Linked DNA regions of Homo sapiens: region 1 is linked to region 2. The links come from fine-mapping of genetic effects on gene expression. A gene starts in region 2. The other region holds a variant in brackets. All regions are shown on one strand. Distances are from middle to middle.

Region 1 (3,032 bases), 44 kb after region 2:
ACAAAATTGGGAGGTCCAGGGTAGAGTTTCCCACCTTCAGGGAACAGCAAGTGCAACAGACCTACCATGGAACTTAGTGATTTTGTTTTTCCAGGAATACAAAGAAGCTCATTTGTGCCTGGGGCATAGACAGGGGCATAGACAGAAAGAGGGAGAGAGGGAGAGAGACAGGGGGCAAAGCATGTAGGGCCCTGAGTCTCATGTGAAGTACATTATTTGGTGTGTGTTCAACTTGAAATGAGAAGGCACTGGAAGTTTTAAACAGCAGTTGACGAAATGTGATTTATACATTTAAATAATCAGCTTGGTTGCTCTGTGGAGAGTGTGTAAGCAGAAGAAGCAGTTACACCATCTAAATAACACAAGTGAGAGTGACAGTTGCTTAGATTTATGTTAACATTGAAAATGCACAGCAGTGGCCAGGCGCAGTGGCTCATGCCTGTAATCCCAGCACTTTGGGAGGCTAAGGTGGGCAGATAACTTGAGGTCAGGAGTTTGAGACCAGCCTGATCAACATGGTGAAACCCTATCTCCACTAAAAATACAAAAATTAGCTGGGCATTGTGGTGCACGCTTGTAGTCCCAGCTACTTGGGAGGCTGAGGCAGAAGAATTGCTTGAACCTAGAAGGCAGAGGTTGCAGTGAGCTGAGATCACACCACTGCACTCCAGCCTGGGCGACAGAGCACGACTCTGTCTTAGGAAAAAAAAAAAAAAAAGAAGATAATGCACAGAAATGGACAAACTCACATATATTTTGTAAATTAAAATTATAGCAAGCCACCCCTCCCCTTAATACTAGCCTTCCTTAATTGCCCCCACAGAATTTTAGTAAGGCTCTCAATTTTAATTAATTTAATCCATTTAGAATTTTTTTTTTAGACAGTCTCGCTCTGTCACCCAGGCTGGGGTGCAATGGCACAATCTCAGCTCACTGCAACCTCTTCCAGTGTTTCTCTTGCCTCAGCCTCAGCCTCCTGAGTAGCTGGGATTACAGGCATGTGCCACCATGCCCGGCTAATTTTTGTATATTTATTAGAGATGTGGTTTCACCATATTGGCCAGGCTGGCCTCGAACTCCTGACCTCAAGTCATTCCAATCTCTGGAGGCCGATATCTCGTCCTCCCAAAGTGCTAGGATTACAGGCATGAGCCACCTCGCCCAGCCTAATTGTGCCTGGCCTAATTCATTTAGAATTCTTATGAAAAAGAATTTTGTCACTTCTCAGCTATTTGTTAATTTATTTAATTTTTAATTTACATCAGTACGAACTCATATTTATTTCATGCTTGGATTATAATTCAATTTATATATTTTCTTGCTCGGCTTGGAGATTTGGCTGTTGGAAGTTGTTTTCCTTGTGCCCCTCAAAGTAACCCCATTTTTGACTGTGTGTATTTACCAAGTTTTTATTTTTCACTACTGCTAATGCTTTGGGCTTTGTCTGTATATCACTTGCCTAGGCCTAGCAAGTGCTTTGTTATCAATACTGCTACTTATTTTTTATTTAAAAGTATCATATTTTAGTTTTATTAATCATTTCTATTTCAGTATACATTTTCCCTTTTGCTTATTTATCCATGATCATTTTTATATTTCATTCTCTTTTGCATATTTTTGTTTTGTTTCATTTTTACTCGCTGCTTGAG[T/G]GCAACCTGAAGATCAATAAGATTTTAGAAATGTGAATATAAATTTTCAAATAAATATGGTTGGATTCAGCTTTTGTATTGTTGACTTTCAATTTCATTTCATTTTGGTCAAGATTGTTTTCTGTATATGCATTCTATGGGATTTTAATTTGATATTTACTTTGTAGTCCTGTATTGGTAAATTTATCTATTATAAATGTTTCTTGTGTACTGAGAAGCATTTTCCATTTGCTTTTTAATTGTTGCAATTTTGTTCCTCAAAGTTCTTAAGCTTGTACATATTATTATAATATTATTAATTTTCTACTCTGCTCTATTGGTTTCTGAAAGAATAATGCTAAAAAAATTAAAAACTACATCACAATTGCATATTTTACTGTCTGACTTTACAACAACTCTCAGTCCTGGCTTTCCATGTGTCAGTGCTATGCGTAGGGTCATAAAGTTCATCACTGTATTATTCTGGTGAATTTTTCTATTCAATAACTGTAAAATGTGCCTTTTTAATTCTATAACTACATTGGATATTAACATAGCTGCTTTAGTTTTCTTTTGTTTGGTATTTGTCAGGGTTGCCTTTTTCCATTCCTTGATTTTTAACTACTTAGCTTCGTTTTCAGATTGGTTTAAAATGCAAAATGAAAGGGAGGGGCTTGGACGGGTGGGATGCCTAATCTGGACCAAGCCCAGTGATTACATTAGCTGGGCCCTGATTGGGTTAGGGTGTTGCCCAGGTATAAAGCCAGGGTCTTTGGAACGTGGGGCTTTATTTGGAGTTTAGCTACCAACAGGAAACCTTCTCTTTGGGTCCTGAAGTATTTTCATATGGAATTGTGAGTTTTTGACCGAAGGTAGGTCGTTTTATTTCTCTGTCGGAGCACTTTTGGATATTTGTCCTACTGAGAACCTTATTATCATCAATTTGTTCTAAGATTTTGTTAAATATTGTAAAACATCTCCACCAGATTTTTAGCTATGCTGCTTGTTTCTTACCTCAATGTGTTTTTGTTTGTACTTTCATTTATCTTCATGCCGATGGCTTTTTACTTCTCATCATATTTTTTGAAAACTCAGTTTTCATTCTTTGTCATTCCTGTTGGGTGTTCTGTTTCCTTTTGCAATGGTTTCTTCTTATGAATTTATTTTCATTGTTTCTATTGATGTTAATGCATCCAGTTTCTTGAATGGAGTGCTCAATTTATTCATTTTCAAACTTGATCATTTTTCATTTTAGTTTGATGCTGCTCTTTTTCTGTTTTATGATTTGACCTGATGTTTGTCTCATGTGACCGTGTGAAGAGACCCCCAAACAGGCTTTGTGTGAGCAACAAGGCTGTTTATTTCACCTGGGTGCAGGCGGGCTGAGTCCGAAAAGAGAATCAG
Region 2 (2,500 bases):
ACACTCATTTTATAGAGTATTAATCAATATCCATACTGGTAAAATAAGTTCTAAAACTCATTCCCCAAAACCTGCTTAATCTTCTTAAACAAAAGTTTTCAAGAAAACAAATTATGAGGCTTAGGCTGTACAAGGAATATGGCTTCTCAGGCTTGCCTTAGTACAAAAAATTCTGTCATGAAGATCTGAGTTTGCATCCCTATTCTCCTTCTGACTATATGGGCTTGAGCAAGTCACCTGGCTTAACTTTGTCATCTGTGGAATGGAGATATTCCTCATAGATTATAAGAATTATGACACTTGACATGTCAAAACCCTAGTAAAATACAGTACTGCCATGACTGAGTTTTAAAAATTTCCAACTCAACCTTACTCTACCAGACTCTGTAAGGTTTGCATTTTATCTAAACTTCACACAATAGCAAATAGGCTAGTAGAAACAAAAGCTAAAAACAAACAAAAAATATCACTGACAAAGTTACTAAATGTCCCAGAGAAAAGTGTGTTAAACTTCAATGACAGTTACACAGAAAAAAATTCTTAAACAACCGTTTGTTGAGCCAATTTTCTCCTACAACAGGCATCATACTATAAATTAGATCGTTTGTGGGTTATAATTTAAGGCCTGTTCAAAAAAAACAGGAACCTCACCCCCAGAGGATTCTGATGCCAAAAATCAGGGACTCATTCCTCAAGTTACTTTCTGCTTGGAGCAGTCACAAGAATACTGTGCAGCAGATGCAGTCACTAAAACCCTGTTAGTGTCGGAAAAGCAAGTGTGTGGGGAGGGTGGGCGAATTGGGAGGATTTTTTGGGGGGGGGGCGATGCTAATTCTCTCAACTTTCAAAAAGGGTAGAGACATGTATACAAAGAAGAAAACAGGGTTATCTGGCGCTGGGGGCGCCGCCCCTTCCCACACACCCACGGAATTATCACTCCGGCCTCCCGTGAGCTAGTCTTTGGCTATAACCAGAAACTCGCTGCCTCTTCACCCGTGCCCAGCACTGCAGGGGTGCGAAGGGTAGTGAAGGGAGGACCTGGGGTTCGCTTTACGCAGTAGGCGAGCTGCCTGTACGCTGCGATCTCCTCGGCGGGCCCAAGAGCTCCAGACGCGCCTGACAGGCACTCGGTTCCGCCCCTAGCCCGCTGCTCCAGGGCCTCCACCGCCCGCGCTCTGCACTCTGCCGCCGACTCCGACCCCAACTGCCCTTTCCCGTCCCATCGCGATAAGAAAGATAATCTCCTATCCTCTTGCCGCTCACACTGGCCGAGGTCCGATGCAGCAGGCTCCGAAGATCATACAGACGCCATTACCACTCTTGGCTCCCAGAAACCTCTGCGCCCAGAGCTAGCGCCTACGACCCGGAAGCAAAATCCAAGCGCTTCGGGGGCGGAAGCAACGACCAATCCGCAGTGGCCGAAGTGGAAGTCGGCGTAACGGCACTAAGGGGCGGGGCCGAAGCGGCCCAGGGGGCGGGCGTTTGAAATCAGTGCCTTAGAGTAGACCCTAAACCTCATTTTATACCTTCAAGAACCAATTACTTAATGTCTCTTCCGTCTTTTCCGTCCCCGACCCCCTCCCAGACTCCTTCATTCCGGTACTGCGTGGACGGAAAGCCCCGGGTAGCCGACACCACGTCCCCGGCTAGCGGGAGAGAGCGTGGAAAAGGATTACACCAAACTGTTTAAATCCAACGACTCCTGCTTCCATCCTTTCTCCTGAGCTAGAACCAACAAACCTAGAGAGTTGGGCTTCGGAAAAACTAGTGTTTTCATTTAATTGGATATGAAGAAAGAACAAATATGTACGGGGCAACCACGATCTTTACAAAGGTACCATTCCTGCAAAAATATTAACACTTCAAAGCAAAGGTTGTATTCGTAATGTTTGCTAAAATTTCTTATTTAAAAAACGTTAGTTTTAGTGGGAGGGGAGATGTCAGTATTTACGAGAGCGTTTACAATGGTGGGCCCAACTACCAGGAGCACAAGATGTAATTATTAAGATGGCTACTTAAGTGTTAAGTTTTAATAAGACAACGAAAAGTAGAAAACCCGAAAACCAAAAACCTACCAGTCGTCTCTCCTCCCTTCCATAAAAACAAATTCTGAGAATAGAGATCTTGGTTGTTTAGCTCATCTTGGTATCTCATCACATAGACCTTGACGTATAGTAGCTGCTCAATTAATATTTGTTAAACAAATGAAAATTCAACTTCCCCAACTTAGTTTAAAATGTAAGGAACTCACAAAATTGAATATTTAAATGCTTTCTTACCCCTAAATTCTTTGCAACTTTTTAATGAAGAAAGAAAAGCAGAAAAAGCCCTTTCAGTCATAGAGTTCAAGATGAAAATCCTGATTTTTCTTACCGAAGGTATCCCTCCTCCAGTCTTAACAAGTCTCACTAAAAGACGCGATCATCATGCTAGTTACTCAAACCAAAATCCCGGAGTGCCTACTTAAATTCCTTTTCATTCACTCTTCACATACGGTTCA

Which allele goes with the higher level. Alleles are on the strand shown, and positions count from the first base shown. SD is a standard deviation of normalised expression in the study named.
For the expression in aorta of the gene that starts at base 1,322 in region 2, T is the high allele of the variant in region 1 and G is the other (small effect, 0.29 SD a copy in GTEx).

The links. PIP is the estimated chance that this variant, and not a neighbour inherited with it, causes the effect. A credible set is the group of variants that fine-mapping cannot tell apart.
Region 1: its variant is the best candidate, but not a certain one, in a credible set for the expression of CWC15 in aorta (GTEx, PIP 0.62).

What each region holds. Positions count from the first base shown.
Region 1 is chr11:95,016,458-95,019,489 of GRCh38, forward strand. No RefSeq gene overlaps it. Among named protein-coding and RNA genes, the nearest start is that of KDM4E, 7.3 kb to the right of the region's middle. The variant T/G (reference allele first, on the strand shown) is at 1,650.
Region 2 is chr11:94,972,235-94,974,734 of GRCh38, forward strand. CWC15 (CWC15 spliceosome associated protein) reads right to left here and starts at 1,322. Exons shown (of 7, transcript NM_016403.4): 1 at 1,264-1,322. KDM4D (lysine demethylase 4D) reads left to right here and starts at 1,475. Exons shown (of 3, transcript NM_018039.3): 1 at 1,475-1,834. RefSeq lists enhancers at 599-1,374, 1,089-1,258, 1,579-1,728.